Regions from separate parts of the Homo sapiens genome. Here region 1 is linked to region 2. The links come from fine-mapping of genetic effects on gene expression. Tissue or cell type: skeletal muscle. Region 2 holds a variant in brackets; the other region holds the start of a gene. All regions are shown on one strand. Distances are from middle to middle.

Region 1 (10,303 bases), 25 kb before region 2:
TGGGTGCGCTTCAGGCTGTCACCTGCCCGAGTTATTTAAATCCACATTGTCAGCTAATGTATTCTAATAAGCAAGTGGGTGACCGGGCTGGCAGGCTCCGGATGACGCTGACATATAGCAAGGGGGGGAGGAGCACGGAGCGAAACTCTGAGACTCACTTGCGCCCCGGTGCTCACCCCCGCACTGCCTCCCACAGGCACCTGGAGTCACGCCACGCGATGTGAGCTGGATTATATAAGGGGGCTTGTTGCTGGGGAACCTCTCCCCGCCCACCCCCGCCAGGGCAGGCTCTGGAGGGAGGCCACATGTCGTCTGTCCCCACCACCCTCAGAAGGAAGCCCCTCTGGCCTTTCTGGCCTGGTCTGTAGGGAAGCTCTGTCTGTAGGCCGCCTCACTTTGAGGGCTGAGGCTGGACCACGGCAACACAGGGTCAGGAAGGGCCCGAGAGGCCATGCCCACACTCCTCTGCCCATGTGTTGCTCAGAGCAGGCAGGGTCTCCCTGCCTTAGAGACAGTGGCCTCATCCTGTCCTCCAGAACTTCCTCCCCATCACGGGCCACGTACTCTCTGCGAGAGGAGAGAGGGGACATCAGATGCCCGGATGGGCAGCAATGCATCTCCCTGGCTATGGCCAGAAGTCTGGCCAACACTATGGCTGCAGGACAGCCATGAGCCACGCTGGGTTGTGGGCAGCAAACCCAAGGCACCATCTGCCAAGGAGGCCAGGTGAGAACCACGTCTGGGGTGGCAGAAGGGCTGAGCCGTCAGCAGGACCCTCGCGCCTCACAGCCCCAGCTCCACTGCGGGCAGTCCAGCCGCAGCCACAGACGGGGGAGGGGGCGAGGTGGGGGGCGGGCCCACGTGCCTGTCCTCGGGATAAGGGGCCACTCCACAGGGTGCTGGCCCCCTGGGGCTCTCTGTGATCAGCAGCAGCAGACCACAGGGGCAACAGCTCCATCCACTGACCCCAAGGTGGACAGAGTGGGGACCTGGGGGCCAGGACGAGATTCCAGGGTGAGGCACAGGTGACGCCTTCGGACTCCTGCAGGTAAAACTGGAGGCCTGTGCAAGATCACTGCCCATTCCCATGACAACCTTAACTCTAGCACATTTTTCATTCATGCAATTGTTACAAAGATACCGCCACCCCCCCATCCCCCCAGCCCAGTTTTCCCTTTGGTGACATCTTGCATCAGTACATGTGTTTATGATGATCAATGAATCAATGCTGCTACATTATTATTAACTAAAGCCCATACTTTATTCATATTTCCTCAGTTTCCCTCCAATGTCTTCTTTCTCTCCCAGGACCCCACCCAGGATCCCACGTGACATTTAGGGATCAGCTGTCTCCAGGTTCCTCTAGGCTGTGACAGTTTCTCAGACTTTGCTTGGTTGTTTTTTGGTTTTTGGTTTTTTTTATTTTGAGACAGAGTCTCATTCTGTCACCCAGGCCAGAATGCAGTGGCATCATCTCAGCTCACTGCAACCCCCGCCTCCTGGGTTCAAGCAATTCTCCTGCCTCAGCCTCCCGAGTAGCTGGGACTACAGGCGCCTGCCACCACGCCCGGCTAATTTTTGTATTTTTAGAGATGAGATTTCACCATGTTGGCTAGGCTGGTCTCAAACTCCTGACCTTGTGATCTGCCCGCCTCAGCCTTCCAAAGTGCTGGGATTAAGGTGTGAGCCACCGCGCCCAGCCCACTTTCCTTGGTTTTGATGACTTGGGAAGTTTTCAGGAGGGCTGGTCGGTTTTTCTGTAGAGTGTCCCCCTGTTGGGATTTGCCTAATGTTTCTTTTCTTTTCTTTTCGAGACAGGGTCTTGGTTTGTCGCCAAGGCTGGAGTGCAGTGGTGTGATCACAGCTCACTGCAGCCTTGACCTCCTGGGCTCCAGTGATCCTCCCACCTCAGCCTCTAGTGGCTAGGACCACAGGCATGTGCCATCACGCCTGGCTAATTAAAAAAAAAATTTTTTTTGTAGAGATGGGGTCTCACCATGTTGCCCAGACTGCTCTTGAACAATCTTCCCACCTCGGCCTCCCAAAATGCTGCGATTACAGGTGTAAGCCACTGCGCCCGGTCTGCCAGTGTTTTTCTAATACTAAGACAAGGGTTATGGGTCTGGGAGGAAGAGCCCAGTGGTGAAGCGCCCTGTCACATCTGCCCGTGTGACCTCTCGGTGATGGTGCCAGCCTTGACCTCTGGGCTGAGACAGTGGGTCGGGCTCTCCACTGTGGAGACGCCTTGCCTACCTCCCACTCTGTGCTCTCTGGAAGGAAGTCACCATGTGCAGCCCACACAGAAGGGGCACGAGCTGGGGCCCCCTCCCTGTGCCCCTTACTTTTATTTATTTTGAGACGAAGTTTCGCTTGTCGCCCAGGCTGGAGTGCAATGGCACAATCTCGGCTCACTGCAACCTCTACTTCCTGGGTTCAAGCGATCCTCCTACCTCAGCCTCCTGAGTAGCTGGGATTACAGGTGCCCACCACCATGCCTGGCTAATTTTTTGTATTTTCAGCAGAGATGCGGTTTCACCATGTTGGCCAGGCTGGTTTTGAACTCCTGACCCCAGTTGATCTGCCCGCCTCAGCCTCCCAAAGTGTTGTGATTACAGGCGTGAGCCACTGTGCCCGGCCGGGCCCCTTCCTTTTAAATGTCAGCCTCTGGAGTGACCATCTGTGTTGGCTGGGAGCTCTTCGGAATGTCCCATCCAGTTGCTGAGGCTAATGATCACCTCTCAGGTGCGCTGGTCCCATTCTCTGCGCTGTTTATGTCACTTTATGCCTGGACTCCTCCCAACAATGTTCTGTCCTCCACTTAGAGGGTGCTCAGAGAGGCTGTGACACCTGCCCCCAGCAACCAGCCAGTCATCTAGCCCAGTGGCCCCCGGGCCCGCCTATGCCAAATGATGCCCCCTCGGTGCCGCCCACCCCTAAATGCACACCATGCCTGCAGACGTCAGCACTCGCCCTGTCCCACTTGCCCTGGTGGGAAACAGCCTGCAGTGAAAACGTCGCTCTGCCTTTTATGCTGGACAAAGCCGAAGTGTGCTGGAGGTGGCTGAGCCAGGCTTCCCGCGGCAAGGAGCGGGACTCCTGACCCCACAGCCCTGGCTCCCACCCTCGATGTGCTCCTGCCTTTGCCTTCTTGCTGGTAACGCTGCCATTGGTGCTGGTAACGCTGCCATTGGTGAAGAACACGGGAGCCCATCCAGCCCATCCAGGAAGCAAAGAAACGGTGCTCCAGACACCATGCGGATAGCTTCACCCGCCGACCCCGGCCAGGCCCAGCTGCTCCCACAGCACCTGGCATGGAGGGGGAAGTGAGCAAGGGCAGGCGGGGAGAGAAGAGGCTCGCCCTCCTGGCTCTGCCCCAGACACCCGTCCGATAGCACTCCAGTGCCTTCCGGTCTCTCCCGCTCTGGAACTTTCTGGTTACTGATTACAAGTGCTTTAATCCAGGAATGAAAAGGAAGAGGAGTTCTGATTGGGTGGACCCTTCTCTTGGAGAGAAGGCAAAGCTGCCAGGCAGAAGGTGGGAGGGGGAGGAAGAGGAGAGAGGAAGCTCCCTTGACAGGCATAAAACGTCCCTGTGATTGCGGACAAGTGGCTACTCTCAGGCCACATTCAGCCGAGGCTGGGTGAGGCTGGTCGGGAAGAGGGAGACGGAGGTGGAAGCGGGTTCAAGTTTTGACGGGTGGTCACCTCAGAAAGGGCTCCTTCTGTTTAGCAAAACTCCCCAATCCTTCGCCTGGCTTGCCAGGAGAACAGCTTGCTTGAAAAGCAAAGGCTGTCATCCTGTAATTAAATCTGAGACCCCCCCCCATGTGACGTTGAGATGAAGCCACTTACATAACGCGACTAAAAATAAGCTGATGAAGGCTGCACACTTACACTCTCTGCCTCCAGCCCTCCTCTCCCCAGCGGCCCATCGTGCTGGCTGACCCAGGGTCCGCGTCACCGGCTGTGGCGTCGGGTTCCTGTCTGAAGTCACTCTTGCCTCCGGCCCCGCTCGGCGCCCTGTGTGCATGAGGGCCCATCGCTGGTGCCCGGGTTGCAGACCCCTGGCTCAGAGCTGGGGTGCTGAGGATCCCCCAGCCCGCCCAGGCGAGGGTTGACGCTTATGAGAGGAGACCTGCTGGGTACCAGCTCCATCTGCCTCCTTCTCAGTGACTCCTGACGAGCTGCTCATTTACACACACCTGCTCCCACCCCCACCCCACAGTCTGGATTGCGAAACCTACCGCACCCCACCCCCAGTGCAGGAAGAAGGTGACCCTGGTCTGGGGTGGGGACAGAGAGTCTGGGAGGGGGTGGTGGCTGGCAGTCTCGGTGGCTGGCGACGCCTCTTCCGCTCTTCCTTCCTGGGAGGAGGCGGGCAAGGCGAAGCCTCTCCGCTCAGTCGATGGTTTCCTTCAGGACGTCTCATAGAGGTGTGGGTGAGATCCCAGGTCTGGGCCGCAATTTCTAGCCACGCTGCCCAACCTTCAGGCAAGCAGTCAGGTTCCACAGCTACCCCACCACACTCTCAGAGTCGAGGGGAACAAGAAGAGGGAGTGGTCTGTAAATGCGTCGGGACAAGAGTGCCCTCCTAACTCCACCTGGAGCTGGCGTCAGGGCGATCTCTGGATGCCCAGCCCATAAGCCTGGCCTGTCTCTTCCTGGGACCCTTGGTACTCAGCACCCCCAGCCCCCAAGCCCCCTAATACCCTTTAGAAAGGCTTCCCCATCAGTGTGAAAGACCTCACAGGACGCTGGTGAAGGCGAGCACAGAGTGCCTGGGGAACATCCTTGGTGGAGAACTTCCTGGAGGCCACTGGTGCAGGGCAGATGCCAGGCGGGCACCGAGTTTCTTGCCCTTGTTCTGCATTCCTAGGTATGAGGACCTCACCACGTCCTGCTCTGCGCCTGTCATCGGCCGCGGTGTGTCTCCTCAGGTGCCGAGCTGGTCACTTCCATGTACAGCATGGATAACCGTCTTCTCAGGGAAGGCCTCCAGCCCGCATTCAGCCACCTGCCCAGCCGCCGGGCGGAGGGAGCAGGCTCAGGCACCGAGACTGCTGAGCCACTGGCCACCCGGGAAGCAGGCTGCGTTCTGAGTCGGTCACCGAATATGTCCCCCCTTGGACGGGAGTAGCGCAACGATGTGCAGGCCAGCTCAGGAAGTAACGCTGGGAGCTTCTAGAAGGTGGAGCGGGATCCAGGACCGTGGGAGCTTTTCCGGAGAAGCCTACCTCTCCTGTGTTGCAGCTGATGGGAGCAGCAGGGCCTGGAGAAGAACTGTCCCCAGGCTGACTCCCCTCTTGGAGTGAGGAGGCCTCCCGTGTTTGCCTGCCAGCCTCCATCTGTCATCTTGGTTCCAGCCATTCAACTTTCCTCCAGGCGAGCAGAGCTGCTCTACCCCCACCTGCTCCGTGTTGGCCCCAGACCCAACTCAGGCCAGTGGACGTCTGTCCTAGGGCTGCGTGTGAGATCGGTGGGTGCAGGGAACACAGCAGGAAGCTGGCCTAGAAGAAGGGGGTCAGGGTCAGTGGAGATGCTCCTACCTTCAGGTAAATGCCCTCATTTGTTAGGGCCAGTTTGAGCGAGCTTTCTGTCATTTACCACCAAAAGAATCCTAGAAAATAAATACACAGGGATCTACCCCCAAACACTGGAGACAATAAAGAAAAAGGAAGCAGCCAGGGCCAGTAGCTGGAAGGAAATTCAGCCGGAGGAGAGGAGGCGCGGGGCTGTGGTGGGAGGGAGGCAATGCTTCCTGAATCTTACTTCCCTGGTCTTTCCATCGGCCTGAGCCCGTGCCAGTCTGGGGATCTGCCGGCCAGCCAGCACAACTGCGTCTCCCCCAGGGGCCTGACTCGTTGAAGGAATGAATGAATGAATGATTTTGCAGGGATGGGAGGCTGGGAGACTGAGAGGTTTCATTAAACGGAAACGCTCAGATCTGGTGTTTCACAACGTAAAACAAATAATTCCTCTATGTTAGCCTAATTTATGTAAATATTTCTCCACGGGAATTGTACCGGGAGACCTGTGTGCCAACTCGGCCAGCTTCCCCGGCAGAATCTCCCCTTGGGAGGACCCTTAAGCAGGACCCTTCCTAAAAATTGGAGGCAGCTCTGACTCCTCCATTCCTCCTACAAGGTTCCCCCACCCCCTAGGGCTTTCCACCGCATGAGAGTCCTCCGGGCCCCTCGTTTCCTACTGCCCTCGACCCTTCCTTCCCGAGACCTCTCTCTCTCAGTAAACTGCCTCCAACGAGAATCTTCTGACGGCAGGAGGGTCCTCCCCGTCCCTAAGGGTCGCCCTGTCCCCAGGCCTTCCAGCAGGACACTCCCCTGTCCCCTCTCCAGATCCTCCTTCCCAGGGCCCTCCTCCAAGATCCTCTTCCCCAACCCTCCTCTCCCAGGGTCCTCCCCTCTCCAGAATCCCGGCCCCAAGCCCCCAAGCGCTGTCTGCCTGTCTGGGGTCCTCCCCAGAGTTCACCTTCTGCAGGATCCTCCCTCCAAGTCCTCTCCTCACGATGCTCCCCCGAAATCCTCCTTCTCCAAGTCGTCCCCCACTCCAGGGCCGAGCTCTCTCCAGGGTCCTCCTGCAGCACCCCCTCCCCCAGGGTTCTCCTCTCTGCCCCGAGGGGCCGGCCGGGGGGTCGCCGCCCGCCCGGCGGGCTTACCTGCGAAGCGGCGGGGTCGGGGCCTCTCCCACCTGTAAGCCCGGCCCGCGGCGTCCTGCGTCCGAGCCGCTCCCCGCCCCGCAGCGCCAGGCCGCGACCCGGCGGGCCGCCCGCCCCGAAGTGCCACTTCGCGAAGTGCCGCCTCCACGCGCGCTGCCGCCGGCGCCCCCCGCTCTCCTCCCCGCACCTTCTGCTCCTTCTTCCTGCGCCACCCCGCCCCCGCCTCCCCGCCCCCAGCCCGGCTGTTGCCCGGGCCCCCTCAGGCTGCTCCCAGGGCCCCAGCCCGCGCCGCGCCTCCCCTCTCCTCCCCCAGGATCGACGCCGCCGCAGACCAATCGCTGCCTGGAGTCGGCCACTAGGCCCCACCTCCGATCCCGCCCCCCTCCCCCTTCTCCGGAACCCACCAATGGAAAGGGCGGTGCGGGGGCGGGGCCTGGCGGTTGCCTAGCAGCGGCAGCGCCGGGCGGGGGCGGGTGGTCGGGGGCGGTGATGCGGGCGCAACGGGGGCGGGACGCAGGGGCGGGGACTGCCGCGGGGCGGGGCCTGAGGCGGCTATAAAGGTGGCCGCCGCCGGACGCCGGGCTCTGTGGTTCGGGTCCGCTTTCGTCTCCGTCCTGCTGCCGTTACCGCCGCTGCTGCCGCCGCTTGCGTCCCCCGCTCCGGTCTGTGGTGCAGCCGGGACCCAGGACCATGTCTCTGTCTCGCTCAGAGGAGATGCACCGGCTCACGGAAAATGTCTATAAGGTGAGCGCCCCCCGGCGCCGAGCTGAGCCCGCTCCGTGTGCGCCTGGGTCGCGCGCCGCCCGCGCGCCCGAGCCCGACCAGGGCGGCCCCGGGGCCGCGCGCCGGGCCAGGAGGCTGGGACTTTGGGGGTCTTCCCGGCGCGGCCACCCGGGACCCGGGCTGCTGGGGTGGTGAGCCCGGCGCCGGCCGCTCACAGGTGGCCACCCCCGCCCGGGCCCCCCCATCCCATGCGCGCCGCGGCCCGGTCAGTCCCCAGCCCCAGGCCCGGGGAGCACTCCCCGCTCCGACGGCCCTGCTCGGCCCCCGCGCGCTCGCCTTGGCGTCGGCGGGAACGGAGCCGCGCGCCGGGCCCCGGAAGCCCTCGGACCGGTCGGGGTCGTAGCACACCCGGGCAGGGCCGGGGCGGCGGGGGCGGCGGGCCCAGGGGTTGCGGCGGCCAGGACGGCATGGGGGCTGTCTGAAGGCCGCGGTCGGCGCGGTGGCACCGTGGGGCTCCTCCAGGCGCGGTTGCGCGAGCCTCGGGCACTTCATTCTCAACAGGCTTTCCCTTCCCACAACTCCTGCCCGGCGCCCATGCTGGGGCCTAAGGTGGGAGGTCGGAGCGCGGGCAGGCTGGATGGGTGGACGGATAATCTATCATCTTATGTAACCGCGGAGAGAGAAGACTAATTGTGTAGGAGGCTGACGTGCCTGCCTTTGCTTCAGATGTGTTAAGAGTGGCATCCACGTTCTCGTCTGCGAAATGACAGGTTCACATCCAAGGGCCGCAGAGCACCGCTGGAAGCCTCCCCTGCCGCCCCCTCCCCAGTCGTTTTTGTGGCTGGGATACCGACAAACAGGCCCTTGGTTTTCTCTTTCTTCAGCATCCGTTCTCGGTCCAGACCCCCACGCCTGAGCCCGGCAGCTGCCGGGGAGCATTTTCTCAGAGGAGAAACCCCTGCTCTGGGTGTCCCTGGGTCCTGGGCGATCTCTTACAGATGTGCTTTGTTTCAAAACTGTCTGCAGGTTCAGTGACAGGCTGGGCGATGAGTGGAGTGGGTATTTACCCGGCAGTCGCTGGTTCATGTTTCCTAACCGGCTTGCACCCTGCCCGGCAGAGTAACTGTTTCTGATTGTGGTAGGCGGCCAAGGCGTGCCTGGCCAGGGGCCTGGGAAGCCCTCTTAGCTCTCAGGCTTGGGAGAGCCAGATGGAGGCTTCAGGGGTGGCCCCTCTGGTTCCAGCTGGAGTGCAGGGGGCCGATTGCACTTGAATACAGCTTTCAATAAAGCTTGTGAAGTTGGGGCCGCGTCAGTCTGGAAGGTTTCTGAAGGCGGGTGTGCGGTCGACTAGATGAGTCCTAAAGCCACGTCGGAGCCACTGGGAAACAGGATTCAGGGTGACCTGAGGAGTCGGCTTGGGAAAGGCACAGGCCCTGGGGTTGTTAGGTTTGGTTTCACAGAGTCTGTGGCATACGGTTCTGGCCTTGTTGCTCTGTGGAAGCACATGTTGTCAAGGGAGGGAGGTTTATTAAATTATTAGTCATTAGCTCCATTACGACTTGTTTGTGATTGCAGAGGGTGGAAGAGAAGTACCAGCGGAACCTTTTTCCTATTTTTTCTCCTTCTGCGCTGAAACCAGAAAGCAGGAACTTTCGTGGTGAGAGTTGGCAGGGGGTGAGTACATGGAGTGGTTTTGCTCTGGGGGACCGACCCCGTGATCGTCCTTAATAAAACTCTCCTAACCGGGCAGTAGGCCTTCACCTAGGTGAAGCTGTAATTTATCTGCAGGTCTAAGTGAAATCTGCTGGCAGGAAAACTCTTAGGACTGAGTGTTTGGGGACTTTGAGCCCCTGTGGACGCAGACCAGCTGGTCTGGAGCACGTGAAACACACAGGTTCTGCGTTTTGTCTTCCACGGGTGGGTTAATTGGTGATTTTCCCAAGTGAAGATGTGGCGGTTGATGATTTGATTTAGCACGGCAGGACGCGGTGGGCCGCAGGTGTCTGAAGGGTCGATCCACTCTGGAAAGGCTTTGCCCTGGTGACAGGCTTGCGCTGCTGCTGCTGCACACAGGCGGGGTTGGTTTTGTAGGTAGGTGGCTCCTGCTGCCACTCCGGGAGCCTGACTGCTGAGTCTTTGAGACCTTTTTGTGCTTTGTCACTGGGGAGCTCAAGGTGCCTTGGTAGTGCCGGTACTGGTTGGGCAGCTTTTGGCAATGTCAGCCAGGCAGAAACTCAGCCCACATGGAGACATAGTCAGGAGACCGCTGAGGCCACCGGTGTGCACTCCTGGGCCGGTCCAGCCGGTCCAGGCAGTGCTGAGCTCTGTCCTCTCCTGGGACGGTGCTGCCTCTGGCATCCCTTCCCGGGGCCGCTCCTGTGCCTGGGTTGGCGGCTTGCAGAGCCCTGGCAGTGCCTCTTGGAACGGCTGTGCTGTGGCCTGCTTAGTGTCACCCGCGATGCGGCTCAGCTGTTTGGTTTGGTTTGGACATTGCATCGCCTTAACTGCAGTTCTGAGTGGTGTTTGCCTTGGCAAAGGAGGACGCTTGTCCTTGGCCTTGGTGATTAAAAATGCGAGAATAAAAAGTGCAGTTTTGATTTTCTTCCCCGTAAGAATCCGTAACGCAGACTTTGACCTCTTTTCTGGTGGCTCCATTCCCTTGGGAGCTGTGTCCTCGGGGAATTTCATGGAAGATGAAGGGGAGGGGAGTGGAACGGCTTCCCGGTGTTTGCCGAGAACATAATCTCAGACCTTCTGGGGGCACTGCGTGGGCTGGGCCCTGCAGGTGTTGGGAGGGCAAGGCGCGGAAGACCCCTTCCTCCACAGGAGCCCGGGCCCAGCGCTTGCTCAGGTTGCCCTGGGTAGTGGCCCAGATGGAGGGATGGAGTGCTGGAATCTGCCTCCCCC
Region 2 (8,000 bases):
GTGGGAGCTGCCTCCTGAGCTGGTAGAACTGTGCCCTGGCCCCAAGGGTGGGAGCTGCCTCCTGAGCTGGTAGAACTGTGCCCGGGCCCCGTGGGGTGGGAGCTGCCTCCTGAGCTGGCAGATGGACTTGGGCACAGCCTGTGGGGCCTGGTCAGGAGCGAAAGGAGGTCTTCTGTTCCAGCAACAAAGCTGGACAGCGGCTCTGAGTGAAGGTGTAGCCCATGCATTCTGGACTGGGTCTGCTGTCACTGTGGCAGCACGCCCCTGCCTGTGCGGGCTGCTCTTGTCCTGTGGCATCTAGAGACGGGAGGGGTGCGGATGTCAGTCCCTCAGGATCATGTAGAAACTGTGGGATCAGGGCTGGGATGAAGCTGTTGGTAACTGCAGCAGCTTCGGGTTTGAGAAATGAGCGAACGCCCTGCAGCTCCTTCTCACAAAGAGCCGGGACAGAGGGTGTGGGGGACTGGTGGCTGCAGGGACATTCCATTCTTCCCACTGTCTCCCTGAGACGCTTCCCATCGCCCCCACCCCACCCAGGCACTCCACTGCGGGGCCTTGGGTGCACCTGGGTCTTTCCGTCCTGGTGGGGAGTGGCTTCCTTGTCGCCAGATGCCCTTCTCACCTGCCCTGTTGGCCCCGCAGGTGCCCTTGGCTGAGTCCTGCCATGGATGGGGACTTGCTATTCTTGGACAGTGACCCCCGGTCTCCCTGTACCCTCTACCGTGTCTGTCCCTGTAACTGCAGCATCTTCATGGGCAGAGTCCACATCCCCAGCAGGGAGGAGATCGTGTGTTTTCCGGGACACGTGCTGCGTCTCTGCCGGCGCCCCCGGCTCCTCCACCGCTTCCTGGTGTTGCGGCACCCATGGGTTGGGTGGAGTTGGTTGTCCAGTTTTGGTGCCAGGTTAGAGGTGTCAAGGACGGGGCAGGAGTTGGTCAGCCCTCGTTCCTTTTTTACCACCTTTACTCCGTTGTCACCTGGGGAGAAAGCACTCCAACCGAGCACCTGGCAGAAGGCCTGTCCCTGGCACTGCCCTCCTTCTCAGCTCCCCAGGTGGACCAGTTGTGCCCGCCTGCCACATCTAGTTGGGGGTGGCCTTCATGTTTCCTTGTGGGCATGAATGGGACAGGGAGCTCCCTTGGGCCACCTCCTGTTTGCACCCGGCACCCTGCAGGGGCCCCCATGGCTGCCCCAGCAGCAGCCTTGTTTCTCTCCACCCTGCCCCTCCTCTACATCCCTGGGCCCGGGGTTGCACCCGAGGGACCTGCTCATCAAAATTGTCTTAAAGAGCTGTCCTTCCTCCAGCGAAAGTCTGCAGGGTGTTTTGTTTTTTTTTGAGACGGAGTCTCACTCTGTTGCCCAGGCCAGACTGCAGTGGCGCTATCTTGGCTCCCTGCAAACTCTGCCTCCCGGGTTCACGCCATTCTCCTGCCTCAGCCTCCCGAGTAGCTGGGACCACAGGTGCCTGCCACCACGCCCGGCTAATTTTTTGTATTTTTAGTAGAGACGGGGTTTCACTGTGTTAGCCAGGATGGTCTCGATCTCCTGACCTCGTGATCCGCCCGCCTCAGCCTCCCAAAGTGCCTAGGATTACAGGGGTGAGCCACCGCGCCCGGCCGTCTGCAGGGTTTTCATGACAGTGGAGATGCTTGGGCTGTGGCAGTGACCCCCGTCCCCCAGCCAGGAGCTTCTTGGATGAGGTAGTGGAGGTCGGCAGCAGAGCCTGTGGCAGCTCTGAGGGTCGGCGTGGCCTCCTGGTGGAAGTTGCACCTGGTTTGCTTCCCTATGGTGCACCCCAGTTGTTGGGCAGCTTCATGGGGGTCCCAGGGAGAGCTGCCTTTGCCTCTGGCCTGAAATGTTGACGCTGGAGAGAGGCTCCCGAATCAGAGTAGGAAGGCTGAGGCCCGGCTCGAGGTGGGTGCAGAGGGCTTCCAACTGTGGTGACCCCATGATCTCTAGGCACAGCACACGATGTCCAGATTCTCCGGGCCCAGCTAAGTTCCGTGCCCTGTGAATGAGACCAGTTGTTCATCTCTTCCTGGCTGGGTCTGAATCTTGGCCATTACAATGAGAATCCAGAGTCCAGATGATCCCACCCCTGGAGATGGGGGCTGGTCTTGCACATTGCAGACTGACGATGGCTTCCTTTTTCCAGAGCCACTCGTCTGTGGGACACTTGGTGACCTCATCTACGGTAGAGTCTTCCGTAGCCCTCACGTGGCTCTCCGAGGTGTGGGTTTCTTCCCCGTCGTCCGCACACGGGGAAGTGGTGTGGATGCCGCTTTCAGTGGGTTGCGGTGGGGGCCGGGGCCTGTGTTCCCCTCCTCTGGGTGAGCAGGCACTTCGGCCCTTTGATGCCACCAAGGCGTGGGTTCCGTTCGGGCCTTTCCGCTCCTGTTTGGTTCCTCATGAGGGTGGCGGGGCTGAGTGTGGAGACTTGGAGCTTTACTTCCTGCTCCTGCTTTTCTTGATGGCCTGGTGGGAATGAGCTCGGCCGTCCAGGCAGCACCGCCACCTTAGCCGCAGCCAGCCGCCCTGGAGTCTCACTTCTGCTGTTGCGTTTTTCTGCTGTTGCGTTTTTCTGCTGTTGCGTTTTTCTGCTGTTGCGTTTTTCTGCTGTTGCGTTTTTCTGCTGTTGCGTTTTTCTGCTGTTGCGTTTTTCTGCTGTTGCGTTTTTCTGCTGTTGCGTTTTTCTTTTGTTCGAGGCAGCACACCCGTCCCAGGCACAGGCCTTCATTCCTCTGTGGACGTGGTCTTGTGCCGCAGAACAAATTGTGCGCTTAATTGAAAAGTATATAAATAAAATCTGATAAAGTGCCCAGTTATAGGCCCCTAAGTGGGTTCTGTAGAAAACGGATTAGAAATTGTAATTACACTGCTCTCCGGGGCCCTGCCCCGCCCTTTCTGCGGCCTGGAGGTCAGGGCGGGGCTCCCTGTCAGGTGGAGGAGTTTGCCAGGCACTCCCTGGAGTCCCTGAGGAGGAAGCCCAGGCTCTTCCAGGAGCCTGCTCCACCCCTGTGGCTGTGGAGGAGTTCAGCAGGCCCGGAGCCCTTCACACCCACTTCTGATTAGATCAGACTCTGCCTCTGAGATGCTGGGAGGCCCCTCAGGCGGCGGCAATACCAAGTAATGCCTTTAGCCTCCTTTGATCAGCTGTGACGGGCGTCCTGGTCTGAGACTGTGAAGCAATTGGAAATAGTTCTCCCACTCCAGGCTCAGCTTGGGGATCTGTGGGGAAATGGCTTCCTACTGCCCAGCTCTGCAGTTTCCTTGCCCAGGGTTGGTT[C/G]TTTGTCTCATGAAATACAGTTAGTACAACACTCCCTCCCCCCGGCCCTGCCTGGTAGCACGTGATAGGGATCAGCTCTCTGCAATTTGACTTGAATAGCTCAGGACCTGAACTGGTACGTTGTGTTCTTACGAGTCAAGGGAGCTCTCATGATTGGGGTGAAACAAGAATATCAACAAGAGATGGGTTCTGTCCAACCCAGAAATCACAGCGAGTCGAGTATTCTCCCAGCTTGTCTGGGCAGGAGACAGGGTTGGGCCTGTGCGTGCCAAGACTGCCGTGTTTTTGCTGGGGGTCTTGTCTGTCCCTCGTGGAGGAAATAACTGCTCCCTTTTCTTCTCTCTCAGGTGTGACGTATGCAGCCAAAGGCTACTTTGACGCCCTGGTGAAGATGGGGGAGCTGGCCAGCGAGAGCCAGGGCTCCAAAGAACTCGGTGAGACCCCCCCCCCCCCCCCGCCTGGTAGTCGCCTGATGCCCTCAGGCAGCTCTGGGGCCCTGTCCTGTGTCCAGCCGCTTTTTGATTTGGGATCAGGTTTTGCCTGTCAAATAGGAAAATATTTTAATGACAGTCACCCTGGGAGCTGCCTTGTGGGGCACACCCTGCTGAAAGTGGGTGCTGGGTCCCCGTCCCCTGAGGCGTGCAGCCTGGGGTGAGGACAGCAGGCAAACCCACGTTTAAAAGTGTTCCCGGCAAATTGGAGCGGCTGACATGGGGGTCTGTGTGCTTGGATGATGGGATTAGATGGCGTGGGAATTCATTCCTGGTATTAAAATGAGTGAAAAAGGATGCAAGCCCACGTGTGGTGTGGCCCTGAGGAAGACACCCCAGCAGCGTGAGTGGGTGGATTTCCTGGAGGGCAGGTTATGTTATTGATGCTTTGTCTGTGTTTAGCAAATTTTCTGTGATCGCTCCTGTGACGTCTATGTCAAGGGACACAGGGTGAAACCTGGAAATTCAGGGCCCACGTGGTGGTGCTGCAGGCGTGGCTTAGACGGAGTCCATGCTTCCACAGTCCCCTCACCTAGCAGGGTGGTGCTGAGGTTTCCTCTGCCCGCCTGGGAGACCCCGGGCCGGCTGCCTGTGCTCACTTGCTGCTCCCAGAGCGAGCTGTGGCCGGCAGAGCGGCCCTTGACGCACAAGGAAGCCTGAGTCGCTGGAGAAACCACTTGGATTCCTCTTCCCTCTGGTCACGGAGGACAGGCTGCGCTCACTCTTGACCGTCTCCCCGTGGCCGCCAATCTGGGAGGTGGTCTGCAGGTCTGGAGACCCTCGGATGGGGAAGAGTCACTGTGACTGGCCCTGTTCCCTTCTTTCTACTTTTCTTCTCGGGGACTGAAAGCCCCCTTGACTGACAGAGGCCCTGGCTGAGTCGGCAGGCGGTGGGCTGGGGGGTCGTGGGTTGCTCTGTGTCACTTCCAGCTCCCAGAAGAGGCTCCGTCTCCCTAATGCTGAGGCTCTGGGGCTGGGACCCCAGGAACCCAGCTTTGCCTGTCCAGGCCCCGTTCTCTCCAGTTCACTCACGACGTCCTGCGCCGGGAGGCAGACCTGCCGGCCGCACTTCGCAGCCCCCTGCGGACCCTCATCGGAGCCCCCCCCCCACGCCCCCACAGGCTGCTGCCTTGGGCAGGCCCGCTGGCGTGTTTGCTGCAGGTCTGGTGATGCCCGGGCGGCTGGAGTTTCTCGAGGCACCGCTGTGCTGACAGACTGGGGAGGAGAGGAGGAGGCACTCTGGGCGGGGTCCCCGGGCCTCCGCAGACTCAGCCTGGAGGATGACGTGTGAGATGCATGGTGTTAGGGTGACGGAGGCTGAGACTCCAGTGCAACCAACAGCAGCCTGCCTTGGAGCTCCTGGGCCCTGACCGGGTCTTCAGGGTTTGGAGAAGGGCAGAAGCAGTGGGTGTCTGTGAAAGGGGCATTTTCTTTTTCATTAGAGACAGGGTCTTGCTCTGTCGCCCAGGCTGGAATGCAGAACTATCGTGGCTCACTGTGGCCTTGAACTCATGGGCTCAAGTGATCCTCCTGCCTCAGCCTCCCTAGTAGCTGGGACCACAGGCGTGCGCCACCACGCCCAGCTGATTTTTTATTTTTAATTTTTTGTAGAGAAAAGGTCTTACTGTGTTGCCCAGGCTGGTCTTGAGCTCCTGGGCTCAAGTGATCTTCCCACCTTAGCCTCCTAGACTGCTGGGATTATAGGCGTGAGCCACCACGCCTGGCTGAAAGAGGCATTGTCTTACCATAATTAACCAGGTGTTGAGGAGATGAGGTAGAGGACCAGGTGTCTTCGCCCCTTGGTCGCATGAGGGTCTGCCCGTGGGGAACTCCAGGCTCTTGTGGCCCACAGTGAGGGGTGGGTGGGTCCGAAATGGGTGGGATTCCAGAACTTCCTGTTGGCGGAGTCCCTGGTGGTTGACTGCAAGAAGGCGCTGAGCCCACATGGGCACAAGGAGGAGGAGGGAAGCTTCAGAAGAGAGGGAGACGTGAGGGCTCTTACTTGGATCAGGGAGCGTCTGTTTACCTGTGGCCTTTTGGAATCTCTCCCCGGGCTCCTCCTGGAGCGTGGAGCCCCGCTGTGTGCATCTGCAGAGGGCCAGCCACATGTCAGCCTTGCTCTGGGAGTCAGGTTTTCTTCCCGGTAACAGCTTGATTGACAGAATTCACATGCCATACAGTTACCCCATTAGAGTGTACAGTTCTGTGGCTTAGTGTATTTACAGTGTGCAACCATTGCCCCATCTAACTCCAAAGCATTTTTATCACCCCAAAGCGTTTTTAGCACCCCAAAAAGAAATCCCATACCCCTTAAGCAGTCCCTCCCTCATCCCCACGCTCCCAGCCCCTGGCAGCCACACCACTGTGTCTGTCTCTCCGGACTGGCCCATTCTAGACATTTCATATAAATGGAGTCATACGGTGTGTGACCTTCTGTGTCTGACCCTTTTCCCTGAGCACATGTTTACCGTCCCTCTGTGCTATAGCCCGTGTCAGGGCTTCATTCCTGTTTGTGGCTGAACGATGATCCATTGCACAGGCAGACCCATTTCATTTATCTGGGGTTGCTGTCACCTTCCGGCAGCTGTGAGCCTGTTTTCATCTCTCCTGGGCATGCACCGAAACTGGAATTGCCGGGTCAGATGGCTGGGAGTTGAGTTTTTATGAAAGCAACACATCCTTGTTTCAAACAAAGTCAGCCACTTCCCACCCTCCTAGTGTGGCCAAGTCCTACTGCACAGAGGCGGCTCCCTCGGCTGCGTGTCTAAGAGGGCAGGTTTATGCCATTCCTCCTCCTCCTCCTCTACCTCCAACAGGGCCGGGCGCGGTGGCTCACACCTGTAATCCTAGCACGTTGGGAGGCTGAGGCAGGTGGATTGCCTGAGGTCAGGAGTTCGAGACCAGCCTGGGCAACATGGTGAAACCCCCATCTCTACTAAAATACAAAAAATTAGCCGGGCGTGGTGGCATGCGCCTGTAATCCCAGCTACTAGGGAGGCTGAGACAGGAGAATCGCTTGAACCTGGGAGGCGGAGGTTGCAGTGAGCCGAGATGGTGCCATTGCGCTCCAGCCTGGGAGACAGAGCGAGACTCCGTCTCAAAAAAAAGTTTAGACATCATCGAAAGGATTCTTATTACGGAAGATGTGGACTTAGCCTTTTTATGCTGTCCCTTGCCCCACCCAGTATAATTATCACAGTATTTGTTTAAACTCATGTACGGTGTTATCTGATGATATAAATTCTTTTCATGGCTAAGGCAGACGGTGTATTATGATGACTGTTTGTACAACTTCATCGAGGTGTCTGAGTGTCCAGTGTGATGAGTTTTGACGTGTGTACACCTGTGAAGCTGTGGCCACAATCACAATGGTGAACTTGTCCGTCTCTCGAAGAGTCCTCGGGCCCTCCCTCCCCATCTCCAGGCAACCACTGATCCGCTTTCTGTCACTGTAATTTAGCATGCATTTGCTGGAGTTTTACATACATGGAACCATACGGCGTGTCTTCTTTTTTTGTCCAGCTTCCTCGGGTGTGCGTGGTTATTCTGAGCTGCCTTCCTGCTGCGCGCGTCAGGAATTTGTTGCATTTCGTCGCTTGCAGGGTCCTGTTGTGCGGAGGTGCCACAGTTTGGCCGTACCCTCATCTGTTGATGGACACCTGGGTGTTTTTAGCTTGGGGCGTTCCTAAATTTTCATTTCCTTAATTAACTGATGTTGTGGAGCATCTTTTTGTGTTTTTGTTCACCACTGATCTCTCTTGGTGAAGTGTGTGTTCGAATCTTCCCCCTTTGTTTCACTTGGCTTTTGTCTTCTTAAGTTACGAGAGTCCTCTGTATACTCTAGATGGAAGTCCCTTGCCAGGAATCTATTTTGCACATATTTGCTTTCAGTCTGGTGGGCCTTTCCTTTTTGTAATAGTGGTTTTAGTTTTTTTTGAGACCGAATCTCACTCTGTCACCCAGGCTGGAGTGCAGGGGTGCAATCTCGGCTCACTGCCACCTTCACCTCCCAGGTTCATGCGAGTCTCCTGCCTCAGCCTCCCAAGTAGCTGGCATTATAGGCACCGGCCACCACACCCGCCTAATTTTTGTATTTGTATATTTTTAGTGGAGATGGGGTTTCACCATGTTGTCCAGGCTGCTCTCAAACTCCTGCTCTCAAGTGATCTGCCTGCCTCGGCCTCCCAGAGTGCTGAGATTACAGGCATGAGCCATCGCACCCA

Evidence for each region. PIP is the estimated chance that this variant, and not a neighbour inherited with it, causes the effect.
Region 1: it holds the start of BAIAP2, and the variant in region 2 is fine-mapped to the expression of BAIAP2 in skeletal muscle (GTEx, PIP above 0.99).

Annotation. Positions count from the first base shown.
Region 1 is chr17:81,027,892-81,038,194 of GRCh38, forward strand. BAIAP2 (BAR/IMD domain containing adaptor protein 2) reads left to right here and starts at 7,260. Exons shown (of 14, transcript NM_001144888.2): 1 at 7,260-7,417. The coding sequence starts at 7,364. BAIAP2-DT (BAIAP2 divergent transcript) reads right to left here and starts at 6,828. Exons shown (of 2, transcript NR_026857.1): 1 at 6,674-6,828; 2 at 1,242-5,507. RefSeq lists enhancers at 2,625-3,233, 3,234-3,841, 7,077-8,072, 9,123-9,675 and a silencer at 6,896-7,205.
Region 2 is chr17:81,054,248-81,062,247 of GRCh38, forward strand. It overlaps BAIAP2 (BAR/IMD domain containing adaptor protein 2), which reads left to right. Exons shown (of 14, transcript NM_001144888.2): 3 at 3,634-3,720. Among named protein-coding and RNA genes, the nearest start is that of BAIAP2, 23 kb to the left of the region's middle. RefSeq lists enhancers at 1,852-2,743, 2,744-3,633, 3,634-4,525. The variant C/G (reference allele first, on the strand shown) is at 3,287.